3 separate regions of the Homo sapiens genome follow, and regions 1 and 3 are each linked to region 2. The links come from fine-mapping of genetic effects on gene expression. A gene starts in region 2. Each other region holds a variant in brackets. All regions are shown on one strand. Distances are between the middles of the regions.

Region 1 (7,625 bases), 430 kb after region 2:
TGGGAAAGGGTGTGAGTCCTGATTTAGAAAGATGAATGTAGCAGAGACTGCTTTGCATTTACTAATATTCATTTTCTGCTCTTCCTGAGAACATGACTAGACTAATTTTCCAGTCTTTCTCTTGGTTATGTGAGGCTATGTGATTGGGTTTTGGCCAGTGAAAGTGGGCGGAAGTGATGTAAGTGTGTCATCTCGCTGCCAAAGTGGTTAAGAAGAGGGCATGTCCTCCCTACCTGATGGCTGAATGGAGGCTTTCTGAAGACCTAGAGGTAGGTGGAGCCCCAAGGTAGAAAGATCTTGAATTCCTGAATGGAGATTGCATGACTAGAGACATCTGTATTGAAGTGTAACCTGAGTGTGTGTGGGTGTGTTAAGCCATTGTGATTTTAGGATTAACCTGCAGACAACAGCTTGCATTATTTCCCTAATTAGTCTTTCAGGCATAGGCAAGAGGAGGAAGAAAAGGAAGATTCTGGAGTGAATAGGGCCAGTTGAGCTGCTCTTGCCCAGATAAAATAATGACAGCTGAGTCCAGAGTTGATACAATAAAGAACACAAAGAATTTTGGAAAAATACTTATTAATTTAGATGTAAAGCATGAATTAAAAGAAAGATACAAAGATAACCTCAATATTTTAAGCTGAGAAATTAGAATAGTAGTTACCTCAGACAAAAAGGGATAATTGGAGAGAAGACCTGAAGTGGGTAATGAAGATGCAGTGAATGTTGTTTGGCATCTGAGCAATATAGGAATCTGGAAATGCAAGATGGGAGATTAGGTGAAAGGTCAGGGTATAGCTTTAGGTTTATGAGTCATTAACATCTGCAAAGAAACCAATAATAATGGCAGATTAAAAGTATGATGACAGTGTATGAGGATTTGCATGTTAAGAGAAAAATAGGAATTAGTGAAGAAGGCAGAAAAATAACCACTAGACTAAAAGGAATAAGAATGTGGAGGCAGTCTAGAGAAGAGAGTTCATGAAGTAATTTGTTTAACACTGACAAACGATTCAGATTATCACAAATGGTGAGGAATGAGAGAAAGCTATTTGCTTAGACACTTTTAGGCTCCTTCCTGGGGAGCATCCCTCTGTATGACTGGTGTAGATCTTTATAGGTAGATATTGCTATAATATAATTTGAAAGGGGTAGTCATTGGGCTGCCTTAGTGTAAGCCCAGGACAAAGGAAGCTTGGAAAAGCATAAGACACATATTTTTATTTACCATAGGTTTTGACTCTGTCATATTTGTTGAAGCATCTTTTATGTACTAGGCATTATCTACAGTGAATAGAATGGGAGACGGTCAGACCATGTATTAGTCTGTTCTCACACTGCTCATAAAAACATAAATGAGACTAGGTAATTTATAAAGGAAAGAGGTTCAATTGATACACAGTTCAGCATGGCTGGTGAGATCTCAGGAAACTTACAATCATGGCAGAAGGGGAAACAAACACAACCTTATTCACATGACGGCAGCAAGGAGAAGTGCTAAGCAAAAGGGGAAAAAGCCCCTTCTAAAACCATCAGATCTCATGAGAACTCACTCACTATCATGAGAATAGCGTGGGGGAAACTGCCCCCATGATTTAATTACCTCCAACCAGGTCCCTCCCAGGGATTATGGGAACTATAATTCAAGATGAGATTCAAGTGGGGGCACACAGCCAAACCATATTATTCCATCTCTGGCCCCTCCCAAATCTCATGTCCTCTCATTTCAAAATACAATTATGCCTTTCCAACAGTCCCTTAAAATTTCAACTTATTCCAGCATTAAACCAAAAGTCCAAGGCCAAGGTCTTATCTGAGACAAGGCAAGTCCCTTCTACCAATGAGCCTGCTAAATCAAAAGCAAGTTAGTTACTTCCTAGATATAATGGCGTTACAGGCATTGGGGAAATACACCTGCTCCAAATGGGAGAAATTGGCCAAAACAAAGGGGCCACAGGCCCCATGCAAGTCTGAAATCCAATAGGGCAGTCATGAAACCTTAAAGTTCCAAAATGATCTCTTTTGACTCCATGTCTCACATCCAGGGCACACTGGTATAAGAGGTGGAATCCCACAGCCTTGGGCAGCTCCGCCCCTACGGCTTTGCAGGTTACAGCCCCATTTCTGACTGCTTCTTAGGCTGGTATTGAGCGCCTGCAGCTTTTCCAGGCTCACAGTGCAAGCCATTGGTGGATCTACCATTCTGGAGTCTGGAAGACGGTGGTCGTCTTCTCATAGTTCCACTAGGCAGTGCCCCAGTTGGGACTCTGTGTGGGGACTCTGACCCCATATTTCCCTCCAGCTCTACCCTAGCCAGAGGTTCTTCATGAGGACTCTGCCCCTGCAGCAGACTTCTGTCTGGACATCCAGTCATTTCCATACATCCTCTGAAATCTAGGGGTAGGTTCCCAAATCTCAATTTTGACTTCTTTGCACCCACAAGCTCATGGGAGGGAGCTGCAAACACTTGGGGCTTGCACACTCTGAAGCAATGGCCTGAGCTGTAACTTGGCCCCTGTTAGCCATGGCTGGAGCAGCTAGGACTCAGGGCACCAAGTCCTTAGGCTCTTCACAGCAAGGGGGCCACAGGCCCATCTTAGGAAGCCATTTTTCTCTCCTAGGCCTCTGGGCCTATGATGGGAGGTGCTGCCACAAAGGTCTCTGACATGCCCTGGAGACATTTTCCCCTATTTTTTTGGTGATTAACATTCAGCTCCTCATTGCTTATGCAAATTTCTGCAGCCAGTTTGAATTTCTCTCCAGAAAATGGGGTTTTCTTTTCTGTCACATCATCAGGCTGCAAATTTTCCAAAATTTTATGCTCTGCTTCCTCTTGAATGATATCCACTTAGAAATTTCTGCTGCCAGATATCCTAAATCATCTCTCTCAAGTTCAAAGTTCCACAGATCTCTAGGGCAGGAGCAAAATGACACCAGTCTTTTTGCATAGCAAAAGTCACCTTTGCTCCAGTTCCTAACAAGTTCTTCATCTCCATCTGAGACCACCTTAGCCTGGACTTCATTGTCCACATCAGCATTTTGGTTAAAGCCATTCAAAAAGTCTTCTGAGCCCTCCAAGTCTCTAGGAAGTTCCAAACTCTCCCACATTTCCCTGTCTTCTTTTGAGCCCTCCATACTGTTCCAACCTCTGCCTATTACCCAGTTTCAAAGTCGCTTCCACATTTCAGGTATCCTTATAGCAGCATCCCACTGTACCGGTACCAATTTACTGTATTAGTCCATTCTCACACTGCTGATAAAGATGTACCTGAGACTGGGTAATTTATAAAGGAAAGAGGTTAAATGCACTCACAGTTCAGCATGGCTGGGGAGGCTTCAGGAAACTTACAGTCATGGCAGAAAGGGAAGCAAACACTCCCTTCTTCATATGGTGGCAGCAAGGACAAGTACTGAGAAAAATGGGGAAAAGGCCCTTATAAAACCATCAGATCTCATGAGAACTCCCTCACTATCATGAAAACAGCATGGGGGAAACTGTCCCCATGATTCAATTACCTCCCACTGGGTCCCTCCCACAACACATGAGGATTATGGGAACTACAATTTAATATGTGATTTGGGTGGGGACACAGCCAAACCATATCAGACCTCTAGCCATAATATAGAGTCATAGCTGTCCTGCTGTGCCTATAAATGGTGTCATGGGGCTACAGGGATGGATTGAACAGAGTGTTTTTTTCAGGCCTGAGTGGATGGGTCAGGGAGACAGTGATATTAAAGCAAAGTGAATTCAAATGAAGGTACAGAATGAGCAAAGGCAAACACATACTTGGATGTGGAAGATTTGTGGAATAGATGTGTTTGGGTTTTTGGGTGGTGCGGCTGAAGAGGTAGGGCTATGGGACTTGCTCTGTAGCAGTGCAGCTTTAATGAAGATTTTAAACAAAGGAGGGACACAGTTAGGTCTGTGTTTTGGCAATGCAGTTCTGATAGCCTAGAGGAGGATGGGTTAGAGATGGGAGAAACTGGAAACCAGAAAGCCCATTAAAAAATTATAGCAATTGTCAGGGAAGAAATAATGAGGTTCCTTAAGTAGAGTGGTTGGCATGCGAGGAGGGGAAAGATTTGAAAATATTTCAGAATTGGAAAAGGCTGAATTTTGTGACAGACTGGTTGTGGAAATGAGTGGGAGCTTTAAGAAAGATTTTAAAATGCTGCTTGAAATTGATTATATCATTGTAGATGTTTGGGTGGGGGCTTTGGTTTTATATATCTAGACTATGATACACTGCATCCAATCTGGGAAAAAAATTTGCCTTTACCCTTAAAAAATACCCCTAATCCAACTGCTTCTCATCACGTCCTCTCTACTACTCTAGACCAAGCCACTGGCCTCTCTTGCCTGGATTATTTCAATGCCCTCTAGTTTTCCTGCTTCTACCTTGCCTTTCTATAGT[C/T]GATTTGCAATGCAGCAATCAACGTTTTTTCTGCTAAAACATAAGGAAAAGCCTCTCCTTTTCTCAATATCTTTTGATAGCTTTCCAACTTTCTCAGAGTAAAGCCAAAACTCTCACACAATCAACAAGAGACTACTCAATCTGTCATGCCCCCTGTTTTCCTCACCCATCCATCCCACTCCAAACCCATTATCTGCCACCTGTCTCCCTTAGCTCTAGCTTCATTGGCTTCCATGCATTTCCTGGAATACACCAGGCGTTCTTCTCTGGCCCTTTGCACTTGCTTTTCTCTTGGTTGAGAATACTCTTTTAGATATCTGCATCATTTACTCCCTTACATTGTTCAGATCTTCACCCAAATGTTGTATTTCCAGAGAGGACTTCTTGGCTACCCTATCCAACATGTAAGCATGCCCCTTCATCTTTCCCCACTTTTTTGCTTAATTTTGATGCCTAGTGCTTTTGATTGTTTAAACTACTTGCTTTTTACTTAATTACTTTGTTTATTATTTGTCTTCCAACTAGAATGCAAGTTTCATGAGGGTGGGTTTTTTTTTTTTAATATCTTTTTCTGCGTTATCAGAGTGTTAAGCACACGCCCATTGCTCAATCTTTGTTGAGTGAATGAAAGTTCTAGGGAAATGCAACCTAAAAGGAAAAAGCTAAAATTGGGGGAATTATTTTCATAAGAATGTGAATTATTGAGAGATAGTTTTCATTCTCCATCAGCCAGTAATTTTATTCATTAACATTTCCTCAAATTGACTTAAAAATGTTTAAACTACATTACCCAAGTAATATAGTAATGAAAAATACACCATTTGATTATTGTTGAATTTTAAGTGTTGAAATTGGATTACAGGAGAAATTTTGAGGACATGAAGCATCAAAAGTAGCAGACTAGAAACAAATCTCTTGGATGAGGTGAGGAAAAGAAACAGAAGGATCTGTAAATTCCAAATCTACATTGGAAGGCTGGATGCAAAGAGTTAGTGGGAGGTTGTAGCCTGTTGAAGGGCTCAAAGACCTGCTTATATTTATGCTGCTTTGATCAGAAACAAAGAATTAATCAGCCATTCTCTACTCTATCATTACATTGGTAACCATATGACAACAAATGTCATCACTCTTCCAAAGACACTGAGCAATTTACTAAGGATAAAACTTGAACTGTAAGATTTAGGAAAATGTGCATTATACAATGAATGAAGTTCAAGTGGGAGAGATTATAATTGTGTACCTTCTTTTTTAAAATTTTTATTTTTTATCATGAGACGGAGTCTCACTCTGTCACCCAGGCTGAAGTGCAGTGGCACTATCCCGGCTCACAGCAACCTCCACTTACCAGGTTCAAGTGATGCTTCTGCCTCAGCCTCCTGAGTAGCTGGGATTACAGGCATGCACCACCACGCCTCGCTAATTTTTGTAATTTTAGTAGAGAGGGGTTTTCACCATGTTGGCTAGGCTGGTCTTGAACCCATGACCTCAGGTCATCCTCTTGCCTTGACTTCCCAAAGTGCTAGGATTATAGGTGTAAGCCACCGCACCCAGCCTATAATTGTGTACCTTTTGAACTAAAGAACTGTAACAGTGAGAAAGGTGAAGATAATAAAATCAGAATTGCATGATTGATTCATCCATTTGTCAACATTGATTGAATTTTTCCTTTGTGCTAGGCACTCTTCTGAATGGTAGTGATGCAAGATTAATTTTTAAAAATGCTCATTGCACTTAAAATGATCTTTGTAATGGGGGACACAGGCAGGTAGGTGAATAATTGCTTCACTGTATAAAAATATTATGGTAAAGTTATGCAAAAAGTGCTGTGGAAAGCAACGAGAACAAAATATGCAATTATAGAAGCCTGTTGTTTGCAAGACAGTAGGATATAGTTGTAAAAAAACCAGCATGTGAGGGGGAAAAAGCAGTATTTATGTTACTATGCATTTCTATATATGTGTTGTTATATTTTAAATTATATGCATATATTATGCATATATAATTTTATTAATGAAAGATAATATGAAAATAAAGATAATATATTATACACATATGTGTATGTTAATAAAATTGACAGCTGAATTAATGAATGCATATGTTAAATTGACAGCTGAATTAATGAATGATGTAGCGTCTTTGTAGATGAATGTATGTTCAGCAGTTAAAAATTTGAATCTGAGGTTCAGAACAGAGGTTAGGGCTAGAAAGCAGCATTTTAGAGGTGATAGCTAAAGCTATGGAAGTGAATGAGATTACTCAGAGTATAGAGCAAGAAGAGGGTAAAACAAAATTTTTCATTAAAGGGCATGTGGAGGAAGCGAAACCTGGGATGGAAATGGTGGAATAATATCCAGGGAATCTGGTCTTGAACCAGGAGACTCATTTTGAATGTCAAGAAAGGAAAATTTTAAGAAAAAAAATTTCAACCCTGTCAAATGCTTCATAGCATCACATAAAATTACTGAAATAAAATATTCTTAATAAAGGAAATGTTGCAAATAGCTTCTTTAATTGGTGAAAAGACTCAAAGTTTTAAAATGGTTTTGTTACCATAAAGAGTATTGGGTACCTCCATACCTATAAAAAAGTAATTCAGGAACTAAAGGAAGAAAAATGTAAAATATAAAGTTTCCAATGTGACCTTTCCATTGTGTCAGCAATCATATTACCTGGTTTTTATTAGTCCAATAAAGCTATAGTTTTTTTTTTTTAATTCAGGTTTGGATAAAGTGCACATGATTTCTGGATTTTCAACATATACTCTGTAAGGCCATAAGGAAGGCGTAGCATGGATCCAATTTTATAGAATCTATCTTTTTTCCCCAGGTCACCTTTTTCTGCCCTCTTCTTTCCTAATATTTCCTATAGAATCTCTCTGTGGTTTTCAAAATCCCACTGGCATGTTTTTGTCAGACCCGACATTCATCTTGTTGTGGGCTCAGATACTTCTGAAAGATCAAATCACAGAGCTTAATAAAATGCAGATAATGGCATTTTTGCCTATGTGGTGCGTCTATTTCTTAACAAATTTAGGGGAAATTCTATATGGTAAATGGAAGAGTTGGCACTAAGGAAGTTAAGAACATTGGCGGGCAGCAATGTGATTACTGGCTGGAAGAAATGTGGATGAATTGGTCTATATCTAATCCTTTTGTGGCTTCCTGTGTGACACACTGTAATGAAAACATCACCGCAAATTATAAGAAT
Region 2 (5,000 bases):
GAAAGGCACAGGAGGGGTGCTCAGACTTCCAGATAACCCAGCGCCAGGCAGCGTGCGGCGTGGAGAGCGGGTGGAATGGACAGGAACGCGCACTCCCTGAGGCTCCGTTCCAGCCCATCCGTCACCTGCGGGGCACCAGAGACAGATGCCGGCTCTCCAGCCAAAGGGTGGGCACAGGTTCCTTTAAAATCGAAAGACCCTACTCCCAGGTAAAAAGATGTCAAATCATTCCTTAGCCCAGACGGAATTCAGCACCCAAAGGGTTACACGTGGCTGCCGGGCTCCGGCGCAGGAGAGGGCGCCTCGGCACTCCCAGTAATTCAATTAGTCAGGTTTCTAGAAGGTGGGGCGGGGGAGGGGGTAGGAGGCGTGGGGAAGGGAGATTAGGAAAACGCCTCTTTCTCGTGGAGCAAACCAATCCGGTTGGAGTAAAGAGAGAGGAAAAACCCCCAATCTGTAAGCAAACAGTAGGCCGTTCCCTGACTGGTTGCTCCAGCTATCCCCCCACCGCGCTCCCACCCTTCCCAAGTAAACTGCTTGGAAGGAGGAAAAAAAAAAAAAAAAAAAAAAAGACAGTCCACATGACCCGGGCCGCAGCGGCAGCAGCGCTGGCTGGGCGCGGGCTGGCGGCACCTCCCCCTGCTTCGTCCGGAGCTCACACCCGCGCTCGCGCCGCCCGCCCGTCCCGCGTCCCGCGCAACACGCCCGGGCGGAGCCCCATCCCCCCGCCCACGTCCACGTTCACGCGTGCGGCCTCGCGCTCTGCTGAGGCTGCTGCCACTGGGTCGCCGCCGCTGTCGGCTTTCCACGCAAGTCATTAACGAGGGGGCGTGCCCGAGGAGATTTTTTTTCCCATAAAGCATTTTTTCTCTCGCTCTCTTTTTTTCCCCCTCTTTTGCAAAACTGACTTTTACAAAACCCTTTCCACTTCTTGCCAGTCGTTTCAATTCCTCCTGGGCTGCTCGTGCTGCTGCTGCTGCACTCAAGTTTATTTATTTTCCCGCCTGGGTAGGGGTTTTAGGATTCGGTTTGTGGTTTTCACCTCTGTTGCTGCTGTGCCTAAGGAGGGAAAGAGGAGCAGCTGCGGGAGGATCGGGAAGGTTTTCTGATGTAGTCATCGGGGAGGTGCCACTCGCTCGTGCGCTTTTTTTTTTTCCTCTTTTCCCATTTCAAACTGATTGATGCATCTCTACAAGTTGCTAGGCTTGGACCCGCTGGAGTCGCAGGGACACTTCTGAGAGCTCACCCCGGGCTCTTGGCACCGCGTGTGGGGGCTCAGTCTCCCTCTCGGAAGGCGATCGGAGACTGACATCGGCCCATCCAGGAGTTGGAGGGATCCATTTGAAAGTGATTGTTTCCCCTCCCGCTCTCCAGCCGAACAGTTGGGTTGGCGTCGTCTTGCAGGTTTAGGAATCCCAGCTCTGCCAGGCCGGCTGGTCTTAACCTCTGCTCTTCATTCACTGTGGTGCACCCACACCCAGCCAAGGAAAGCACGCGCGAGAAATCCCCGAGGCTCGGCCAGCCCCCGGGGTGCCCTCTTCCGCTACCGCCGCGTTCCGACTCTGCTGGGGGACCTGCCGGAAGACGCGAAGAGCCAAACTTTTCTTTGAGGTTTTCGAGGCAAGACCGCTTCGAAAGCCGGCGCAGCTGCCGCTTAACCAGTTCCAGGACACCGACAAGGCTGGGTTGCGGCTCCGGATCCCCACCCTTCTCGGCGCACCGCCCGGTACCGCAGCACTTACGACTCCTCTGAGATTTCTGGGGGTCGCCCCGCTAAGGCACAGAGGAGGCTGAGGAAAGGGGTTCTCAGACTCCCGGGACCACAAGCGCGAAGCCCTCTATCAGCACGTCGCCCTTCTCCTGCAGTTTCCCACCGGCCGCCAAAGTAACTTGGAGCGAAGCGTGGCGCAGTGCGAGGGCCCCGGGCGGTGGCGGAGCCGTGCGTAGCCTGCTGCGCCGACGCTGAGCCGGGCCCGGCGGGCCGGTGTATGTCTCCCCGCGGCTGCGGCGCGCAACTCCCGGTGACTGTGCAGCGCGCGCCGCCGCCTGCCCCGACCCGCGCTGCAGCCGCCCGGCCCGGCGCGCACCTCCCTCTCCCGGGGTGACCGGCCTGCCGCCGCCGCCCGAGACACAGCTTGGCACCTCTTCCCCCGCCCTCGCCGCCGCCACCACACACACGCACGCTTCTCTCCATCTTGTGATTCCTTTTTCCTCCTGAACCCTCCAGTGGGGGTGCGAGTTTGTCTTTATCACCCCCCATCCCACCGCCTTCTTTTCTTCTCGCTCTCCTACCCCTCCCCAGCTTGGTGGGCGCCTCTTTCCTTTCTCGCCCACTTTCATTTTTATTTATTCATATTTATTTGGCGCCCGCTCTCTCTCTGTCCCTTTGCCTGCCTCCCTCCCTCCGGATCCCCGCTCTCTCCCCGGAGTGGCGCGTCGGGGGCTCCGCCGCTGGCCAGGCGTGATGTTGCACGTGGAGATGTTGACGCTGGTGTTTCTGGTGCTCTGGATGTGTGTGTTCAGCCAGGACCCGGGCTCCAAGGCCGTCGCCGACCGCTACGCTGTCTACTGGAACAGCAGCAACCCCAGGTAAGCCGATAACAGGCGGAGAGCCAGGGCTACCCGGGCCTCGGGGCCCTGCGGAAGGAGCGGCGGCGGGGATCGGCGCGCACCAACCGCTGGCGGCGCGCACCCTCGGAGCCTGCGTCGCCCGGGCGCTGATGGCTTGAGGCGTCGGCGGGAAGCGCTCGCGTCGCGCCCCTCTTTGTTAAGCCGCCGCGGAAAGGCCAGGTACCCCTGGGAGTCCCCGGGGCTGCCTAGACCAACTGCTTCTGCGGGGCGCCGGGAGACTCGGAAAAGGGCGGGAGCCGGGGAGTAGGGACTTCTCTGCTTCCCAGCCCCGGCATCTGGCTGGCATCCGGTTCCCGGCGCGGGGAGCCCCCAGTGTGCGCAGCCGGGAGCTCCTTCCTGGAGCGTGGGTCCGCAGGGACTGCGGAGAGAACCCGCCAAACATCCCCCAAAGTTTTTTTTTTTTTTTTTTTTTTTTTAATTTTAATTTTCCCTTCTCTTTTCCCGGTGCGCGCAGAGAGAGCGCACGGGCTGGGGGAAGTGAGGGGGGCTGGGAAGCGGAAGCTTTAGGTTTTTATTTTCCTCTTCAACTGCGAGGAAATCATTCGGCCCCTGAGTCAGTCTGGGCCCGGCGCGCCTGGCAGTGGAGAGGATTCTCCCATCTTCTCCATCCCTCCACCCACCCCAGTGGGTTCAAGGTGCCAGAAAGTTTGATCTAATGCCGGGTTACGTCATGTGTGCAGAACAAGCTGCCAGAGTTGGCCGAGCCAGGAGGTGGGAGCCCTTCGCCCGCGGCCTGGCGATGTGCTGCCGGAGGAACGCGCGCGATTACCTGGAACCGATTTGTAGGCGTCCCGAAGCCCGCCGGGTATGCGGGAGACTAGAGGTGGGCGCCGGGGGCGGTCCTAGTGCGCGTGCTGGACACCGGCCAGTCGCAGACGTCCCGTGTTTTCGGACCCTGGAAGTGGAGTGGGGAGGTTATCCAGAGTGCCCGGCGGGGTCCTCCGGGTCTGGAGCAGTTCCGAACCTTTATTGCTTCCCGGCCTGTGCACAGAAGTCGGCCCCGCTAGGCCCATACCGCACTGCTTTCTCTGGGACAGAGGCTAGCTTCCAGCTGTGTGCCGGTCTCGGTGCCCTCCTAGGTGCTATTTATTAATAGTACCGATTGCATCTAAAGTCACAGGTTTTTCACTGGGCTGGAGTGGAAGTTGGGAAGAGAGAGGCGGGAGGCCGAGGGGTTAGCCTAAGAGTTGGTGCGCGCCCCGGGCTCCAGGAGAGAGGGTATCGGTGGGCGCCTCCAGTTTTTTCTATCTCCTGCGGGCCCTCTCCGCCTGCCTCCAGCCTCCCCTCAGCATGCAGGCAAGAGAGGGATTCCCTGCTTGAATAATGTCAGCGCAGATGAAGATGGGAAGATTTCCCCACAAGCAGTCCGCCGGTTACAGAACCAGGAGGGAGTTCCCCCTATCCCGCTAGTCCAAGATAGTCTTACTCAGGTAGCCGCCCAAGTCCTAAATGAACCGCTGAACAGGAGTGGAGATATTCCTGAAAGTTTGGTTCAAAAAACAAGAGTCTCCTGGAGGTGGGTGGTGGAATGGGAAGCGATTTCTTCTTTGACATGCCACTTACCACTATTAGGAAAAGAGAAAAAGAAGCCATCCTGCCAGAGGAGAGATGCCTTTTATTAAAGCTGACAAGACAAATAGAGCAAGCTTTCCAGTTGTGATGGTGTTAAAAGCCAGTCTCATTATGTTGGTTAGTTTTTTTTCCCCGTTTGTGCTTTATTAGGCAGCATATACGAAGCAGAAATTTGTATCTCTGAACTTTAGCACCTTATTAAATAAAGCAACACTGAAATAGTTTCTTTGAATTTGGGATATCTTGCTCTCGGTTGTCTTTTCTTTCCCACACCAAGCTCCACATTGTGATCTTTTTCTCATGGCATTCATTTATTTGGATACTTGGGTGTTCCAGTCTTCCTGGGTTAAAACGGAAAGAACCAGCAACACCCCTACTTTAACCCCCCTTCTTAACCTGTCAAGCTAGTCTGAGTTAGTTTGAGGACATTTTATCTTAGGTTATCTCTGTTTTGTGCTTTTGATACTGTTGTTTGGTTTGAGATTAGCACATTGATTTTTGTCACAGGTCATGTTTTTTAATAGATCTGCCCTGCCTGCAGAAAACTCTTCTGCTCAGGATGCCATGGAGGCTTTGAACCTGCCCAGACAAAGTTAATCTGCAGAATTTTAAAATACCAAGAGTATTTCTAAATCGGTATTCTAACTTCAGGTTTGTAGAATTACCTTTCTATTTGATCATTATCAGTTTGATAATGGCCAAAAGAAAGAATGATGTACCCCTCTTAACCCCAAGAGATACAGCCCTAACACTTATTATTCTTAGGAATTTATGGACACATTTATCTTGGTATGTTA
Region 3 (7,625 bases), 170 kb after region 2:
ATCTCCTTGTCTACTATGATTTCCAGCTGTCCAGATTTCCCATATAGCATGCCCTAGGCAATGTTTGCAGATTTGTTGCATGGAGAATCAGTACACAGTGCACCTTGTAGTTTTACATTTTTCATGTAGGACTCAGTTTCTTTTCTAAAGAAATTTTTGTGAAATTAATAACAGGATGCCATGAAGCTTTCCTAAGTCCTTTGAACTTAAATCATTTGATATTATTTGAAATTGCCATTCATATAATGAACAGCATTTTTTCTCAGAGTTATGCAATGCCTACTGCTTCACAAATTATAAACTACGAATATTTTTACTTAACATATAACAGGTCCCTTATCTTAAAATTCATAGCATTTTTGCTTTGAATGGAGATCATTGCCAAGTTTTTGTTAGGCACCTTTTCTTTACAGAGCTTGTCCTTTATTATTAATGTCACAGTAGTTTTTCAGAACAAATTGCATTAAAGATACGGAAAAACAAAGGCTACCTTTTATACATACATTGGTTTATTGAAGCAATAATTGAATAATAAATAGGATGATATTATAGGGCCAAAATTTTACTACTAGTTATATGACAGGTTTTTCTGTTATAGCTATATTTTTGAAGCATTTTAAAATAAAATAATTAGGGTTATTCCTAAAGATTAAAATTCAGAGTCTACTAGAATAGTAATGAAAATCATTATAATTGTACTTTCACAAACATGTGCCAGACCTTTTAAGCTTGGTGCCTAAATAGGCTTCGACAACACTTTTTCATGTACTCCTACCAAATATCTTGGGGATAGGTAGGGAAGCTGTTCCACTGATTTTACAGATGGGCAGACTGAATCATAGAGCAGTTAAATGATTTGCCCAGGGTAATGTAGTAATTAGATATCTGTATCTGTCTGTGCTCTTTTCATTAGTTTATTCTGCAGCTCAAAATGTTTGTTCCTATAAGCATGCATATTATTTGTACATTAATAATGCATTTTCTATTTCTATAAAAGAAGAGAGAATAGCAGATAAAGCTCCAAATAGAGAAGACACATATTTTAGTAAGGTAGCTTTAGCATCTAGTTCTTTTTTATATATATAACATATCACTAAAAATGTATCCTCTTCGAGTGTAGGGACACATTTTGCTTTACTTAACAGCATTCATTTAAGAAAAATGCTAGTTTCATTTCAAGTCAGTTACTTTAAAAAATAATTATGTTAAAAGATATTTTAGCCCTTGTCAGTCTGTAATTCAAACCTTAAGAATGAAGCTCTTTTTTTAGTTAATTTAAAAAATACCCTCTCTTTAAATACTTTCATCCTGAACAAAAAAGACCTTTCTTTTGGGATTCCTTCTCTGCATGGCAGAGTTCCTTACAACAAAATGCTCGAAGAAAATAGGAGGTACTTCAGATACTTCTTATATAACTGATGTTTGAAAATGTTAGACTGATTGATGTATAAAAGTGAATTTTCCATAATGGGATTTTAAGTCATGAAGAATGAGGAGAATTGCCTGATTATTAGTTTAAAGGTAGCTAATTCAATGCATGCTGTAATACATTTTAAAAGCTCTGCATTGCAAATACTGAATGATGTAAAATACAAAATACACATCTTTTTATTTCCAAAGAAGATTAGAAAACAATAAAATATTAGAAACTGAAATTTTTAATTTTTTAATGGCCTTTTTAATGGGTAAACAATTTAGTAATAAAAAATATTAATGGTTATGAAGATAATAATTTTAAAGTGACTGCTGATAGCTTGGGTTACAAATAGCCTTATCCTTAAGACCTTATCTCTTTATAATTTAAGTGCTTTTACATATTTTGCCTCATTTACTTTTAAAGCTTCATGATACAGTGATTTGTGTGGGTGGCACAGTTCTTACTACGTAAGTAGTGAAACATAGCCATAGGTTAAATGATTTACTCTTAATTTTATGCTGACTTTTTCAGGCAATTTCTGAGGCTTTATGTTGCCTGTATTCTGAGCAACGAATGATTGAAAACAGCGAGGAATTCTGGAGATAGACATCGGAACACCTCTTCTTAGAAGATCACATTATTCAGAATCCTTAATGATTCTTACCTTTTGAATGACAGATTTTTAGTGGACATAAAAACTGCTAATGAAAGTAGGATGGTTAGAACTGTTGACATTTTACGTGAAGGCATTGCAACTGGGCAAAACATATTCAAAACATCAGGTAGTATTTTGTTCACTGTGCACCGAAGGCAGATGACTTCATTAACTGGTGACAATTTTACCAATCCTGGAAGCTTTGATCTTGAGGGGAAACGATCCTGCATAGTAGACAAGTTTATTGGCAATAGATGACCTGGTAGTAAACAGTGGAGTTCACAGCTGAAACTGCACCCTGTGCCCGCCCTTTCCCAACATGCTGTGATGCATTTTGAGCTCTTCCATTTTAGCTTCCATTATCCACCACCCAAGTTCTCAATTCAATTTCAGACTCGGGCAAAAGCCTGTAATTCTATTTGTTTTGGGTAAATTTAGCAAGCTGCTCCTGATTACACCTTAGCCAGAGACCATCTGTTGACTGGCGTGCCTCTCTGAGGAGTGGTTCCTGTAGGCAATGAATGGGAAGAGGGTTGGAGTGCTGCTGCTATTAGTAAGCAGATGCACCGTATCAGAGATAGTCCTTCCCGCCTTTCAATCTGCCAGCTCTCTGTATTGATGGAGTGTCGTATGCCTGCGAGTCGTTCCATCCTGAGGCAATGAGAAGTGCTCTCCTAGGGTCCATTTATCAAGTGCTTCTACTGGCATTTGATGGAAAGGAATTTAGAAGTCATAGTTTGATACACTTCGAGCACGGCCACGTTCTCCTTTGCACGTCCTGAGTATGTATGTATGTGTGTGTATATATCAACCCCATGTACATGCTTTTCAGCAGTTATGTGCTGTCAAAAGCCCCACAGATGAAACAACAAGATACAGCTGTGCTTCGTAATGTAATGAGTAAACCGCCACAGCAATTGTGTCAGGATCACAATTCTTTAAGGCACTGCTTCCTAAAATGATTGCCGGTTCATTTGCATCAGATAGGGAAGATGTGCTAGATAAATTCAGAATGTCGAGGAACAGTTTGATGTTGACTGTGGCATGATGAGGGATCTTTCTAAATGATGATACTGTTAGCTCGTGGCTAAGACGAGACTGGTCTAAACACAACAGAGACGGCAGTTTCCTGTTGCAGTGAGTCATGAGAGGAAATGGATAAAATGAACATAAATTAACTGCATTTCGTTTTCTAAGAGTTGGAGAGGGAAGGGAAGGAGGCAGTGGATGGCCAGTGTGCCTGAAAACTGGAATTAGATCGGTGAACTGAGAGGATTGGTTTCTGCCCTACGTTGGGTGAAGAGGGGCAGTCCTCATTGCTAACAGCCGCAGGTTGGTGTAATTAACTAACTT[C/T]CGTAGGCAATGCCCGGTGTACATCTTGAAAACCCATCAGATGGGGTATTTCTCACTGACATCAGCTTTTAAAGGGAGGAGGGCTCATAGTTGTATCACAGCTGCAGTACTTTTCTTTAAGGCAAGAAACAGTTTAAATCAGAGAAAATTTCACAGGATTCTAGATCGACTACTTTTTTCATCTAGTTCTATTATTTTGACCTTATGGCCGTTTTTTGTTTGTTTAATGGCGTGAATTAAAGTGTGACATTTCTGTCCATCTTTTCACGTACAAAATCAGCATTCGTTAATTCAGGTTATGAAAATAATTGCTGCTTCAACAAAGTGAGGCTTAAAATACCACAACAGAAATGTAGCCGATAGTATGTATCTTAACTTTTAGTTTATAATGACTGTATTAAAATGATATTACAGTTTTAAGTTTTTCAAACAAATAGTGAATGGTTGTGCAAAATAAGACACTGAAATATTTTTTAAAGAATTAAAATCACAAATGTTGAATGAGAAAAATAGTTTCTGAGAATTTCTTTGCTAAATCAGGGCAATTTGGTTTATTGCCAAACTGATTAAGGAGGGGCTGATTTCATAAGCTATAATATCTGTACTTTTATGTCATCTCTGATATAACAGTATATAATGTATTTAAGACTGCAGATCATCATTAAACCACATAATGATTGTTACACAGATAAAATAAGAAGCTTAATTTGTAGCTAAAGACTGTATCTTATTGATTGTATAGTTGATGTTGTGTTGTGCAGGAGGTAAGAAATATCCTAAGTAAGAAACAGAATATTTTAAAAAAATATTTACAAAATCATATAGTTGAGTCAATATCTATAAGTGAGGCTTAATCCATGCAAATAAATTGTTTTAACAAGGGCCTGTGGCTTTAAGAATGACACTTGATCTATATGCTGTAGAAGGCTTGTAGAAGTTGTCCTCATATTAGTTTATACTATGCACACAATATGTCCTTATCTAGCCTGATGCATGCTCTAAAACAGGAAGCATAAAACCAAGACGACACCAGGTATGAATAAATAGTAAGAGTTAGGAGCTGGAGCTGACTCCACTGTGAATTCTCCCACTCACTTGTTCACAGGTTTCTTCCTGCAGGCTTCAGGATGAACAATCCTGGCTGAAATGTTCACAGGAAACCTTTTTGTTTTGTTTTTTTTTAATGAATATTTTTTAGGTACTTGCTATTTGAAGAAACAAAGTCAAGGTGATTTAAGGGCCAGGCAAATATCCCTTAAAGACCTTTGTTATAATATAGCCCTTTTATTATATTTGAATATATGCTCAGATGCCTGCAGAATTTCATGTTCCAGTCAGGGTAGAGCAGGCTAATTTTTAAGGGACATGTGCTTCAGTACACAAATAGGGTAATAAATAAGACTAACAAGTGTGCATTCAGGCTACATGTATAAGAGGGTAAGAGGTGAGACAGCCACACCATATGAGGATAGGGTTGGGTGGAAACAAAGCCAGGCTAATGGAAAGCCTTGCCTGCTCTCTTCTAGAAAAAAATTGAACTCAGGTCAGTAAATAGTGCTGCACTCTGGGAGAGACAAGTATATGACAGGTCTTTGCTTTATGTGAAGCTTACAGTGGGACTAGGCTTACCCTGGCAAAATTATTACAGAACAAGAAAGACTTTGCAGTAAAGAGCAACAGAAAGAAGAAATGCAGAGCTACAAATACTTTCTTTAGCAGATATACGTATACATTGTAGGGAAAACGTAAAAGATCAGCCTTCGTGCCCTACAGACCACAGTTAATAGTGATGTTTGTGGCAGTTTTTCCTTATTGCAGATTATAAATAGTTCCAGGGAACAAATAATTACTAATGATCAACTTATAGTTGGAGATATTATATTGCATTGGTCTCTCACAATGGAGGTTCTGCTTTGACACTATCCAAGAGTGGCATTTGGGTGAATAAAAAGAGAGGGGAATAGAAAAGCTACAACTGAAGCATTAGTTAGAACACTGTCAATGCCAAATCACAACTGCTTTGTGCTGTGGATTCCTTTCTGCAGGCTGCAGGATGAATGATCCGGGTTGAAACACACACAGTACACTGCAGAACTGAGACTGTGACCCATGGGCTTTCTCCTGCTGGCCCCTCTCAGATATTCCAGTTGGTGTTGCTAGCTTTACAGTCTCCATGGGCCTATTTACCTTGGTAATTTGCACCTGATGCATTTATATTGGTAATTTTTTTTCTCCCTGGAACCCTGGGATCTCATTTATTCACTAGTGCAATGAAGTGGTGGAGTGAAAATCCCTCCCTAACTCAAGGAGGGGAAGAATTGTTTAGGGAAAATAGCAACCCTGCTAACTGCAGCTCTAATTAAAACACCAAAAGAAGACTTGTTCTTATTTAGACGTTGGCTAATACCTGTATCTCTGTGCACATATAGGCCAATGCTAGTCCATCTGTGGGCATCACTGCTAACTTGCTAACCCTTTAAAAAAATCCAGTGTCAATATGTTTTTGTTTCAAAAGAAAACAATGACAGCCCTAGGATGGAAACACAGGAATTCTTTGGCCACAGCTTGCTAAAACCATGCTTGGTAGTATGTGCATGTAGGGAAAATTACTTTGAATAACAAAAGCACAAACAAGGACTCATAGAATAATAAGCAATTAAGGTGGATTAACAACAGTTGCCGAATTCCAGCTGTTGGCTGCAGATGCAGGCTCTTTAATTCAAACTAGTTGCAACCTGTTGTTACTCAGAGACAGAAAGGGAGAAGAGTATATCCCTGGCAGTGCCCATATCAGGGCAGGTTTATTGTTGTGCATTGTGGGAGATTTAAGTATTGAGGGTATGTTTACTTTCTCCCGATTTAAAAAAAAATTTCATCTTTCTTCTCTTTTTTTGACATCTTCCTATATATATTTGTGTCTTTCGATTTAGAATGACTAACCAAAATCTATGTGCTTGCTATTTGGTTATGATAATGAAAAAGGAGAAGAGAGCAAAGCAGGTGTCTGTTTCCAATGGAAATCTCACAGTAAAAGAAATCAAAGACTCCTTTGGCTGATACACATACATACATACATACATACATACATACATACATACTTATATACATAAAGAAAAGCACAGGCCCCAACGACACAACCTGGGGAAACTATATGAACAGGTAATTTACAGGGTAATCACCATATGTAGTCTATCCCCTGCAGCCTTATCACAGTGTGTACATTGGCATCAAACCTACCTCCTTGGAAAGCCTCATTATTAGTATTCAGGAATAGTCCCTCTAAGCATATTGGCCAGAGGTCTGAGGTGCAGGGCTAGCTTCATGGCATTCAACCTGTGCTGTCACACAGGGCCCTGAGCTCAGAAGGGCCCCATACTTGGCTTAAGGCTCCGCTGTCACTGTCTCAAAATTCTGAATTTTATCTTTGAACTAGTGTTTCATAAATGGAGCATCTTCATGAGCCGAGGCGATGTGTGATATGTTTGTTTGTCCATTGTGGCACTATCTGCATATCACATTCACAGTTTTTCACAAATACAGAATTCTGATAGACTATGATGTGTGGGGGTCCAGGGAAGCTCCAGGGGAGTAGAAAGTAAGTGGATTATGGAAGCTGTCTGTTCCTGTAGTGTGTTGGTATAATATGCATGAATCAAGAAATTTGTGAGTGAGTTTCAGTTGAGTTAGTTGTGTAGTGTTTCCACTGCCCTAGTAAGAATGAAATAAATATACGTGTATGAGCTATGAAAAAAGGTTGTGTCATATTATTCCACATGTAAGTTAAATGCTCTTATATTTGCATTGAAACTGTCACTGTACCATATAAAGATAAATTGTAGGCCGGGCTTGTTGGCTCACGCCTGTAATCCCAGCACTTTGGGAGGCCGAGAAAGGCGGATCACTTGAGGTCAGGAGCTCAAGGCCAGCCTGGCCAACATGGTGAAACCCCGTCTCTACTAAAAATACAAAAATTAGCTGGGCATGATGGCACATGTCTGTAATCCCAGCTACTTGGGAGGCTGAGGCAGAAGAATCACTTGAACTCAGGAGGCCGAGGCTGCAGTAAGCCGAGATCGCGCCACTGCACTCCAGCCTGGGTGACAGATTGAGACTCCGTCTCAAAAAATAATACTACTAATAATAAAAATAAAGATAAATGGTAAACTTCATGCTAATAATTAAATGTTTTAGTTTTTCTCT

Evidence for each region. PIP is the estimated chance that this variant, and not a neighbour inherited with it, causes the effect. A credible set is the group of variants that fine-mapping cannot tell apart.
Region 1: its variant is the best candidate, but not a certain one, in a credible set for the expression of EFNA5 in tibial artery (GTEx, PIP 0.74).
Region 3: its variant is the best candidate, but not a certain one, in a credible set for the expression of EFNA5 in blood mononuclear cells (TOPMed, PIP 0.64).

Annotation. Positions count from the first base shown.
Region 1 is chr5:107,235,312-107,242,936 of GRCh38, reverse strand. No RefSeq gene overlaps it. Among named protein-coding and RNA genes, the nearest start is that of LINC01950, 230 kb to the right of the region's middle. The variant C/T (reference allele first, on the strand shown) is at 4,419.
Region 2 is chr5:107,668,078-107,673,077 of GRCh38, reverse strand. EFNA5 (ephrin A5) reads left to right here and starts at 2,141. Exons shown (of 5, transcript NM_001962.3): 1 at 2,141-2,589. The coding sequence starts at 2,465. RefSeq lists silencers at 629-698, 2,059-2,108, 2,679-2,748 and enhancers at 1,529-1,668, 2,379-2,508, 2,909-2,988.
Region 3 is chr5:107,497,854-107,505,478 of GRCh38, reverse strand. All of the region lies in intron 1 of EFNA5 (ephrin A5), which reads left to right. Among named protein-coding and RNA genes, the nearest start is that of EFNA5, 170 kb to the left of the region's middle. RefSeq lists an enhancer at 5,788-6,289. The variant C/T (reference allele first, on the strand shown) is at 3,426.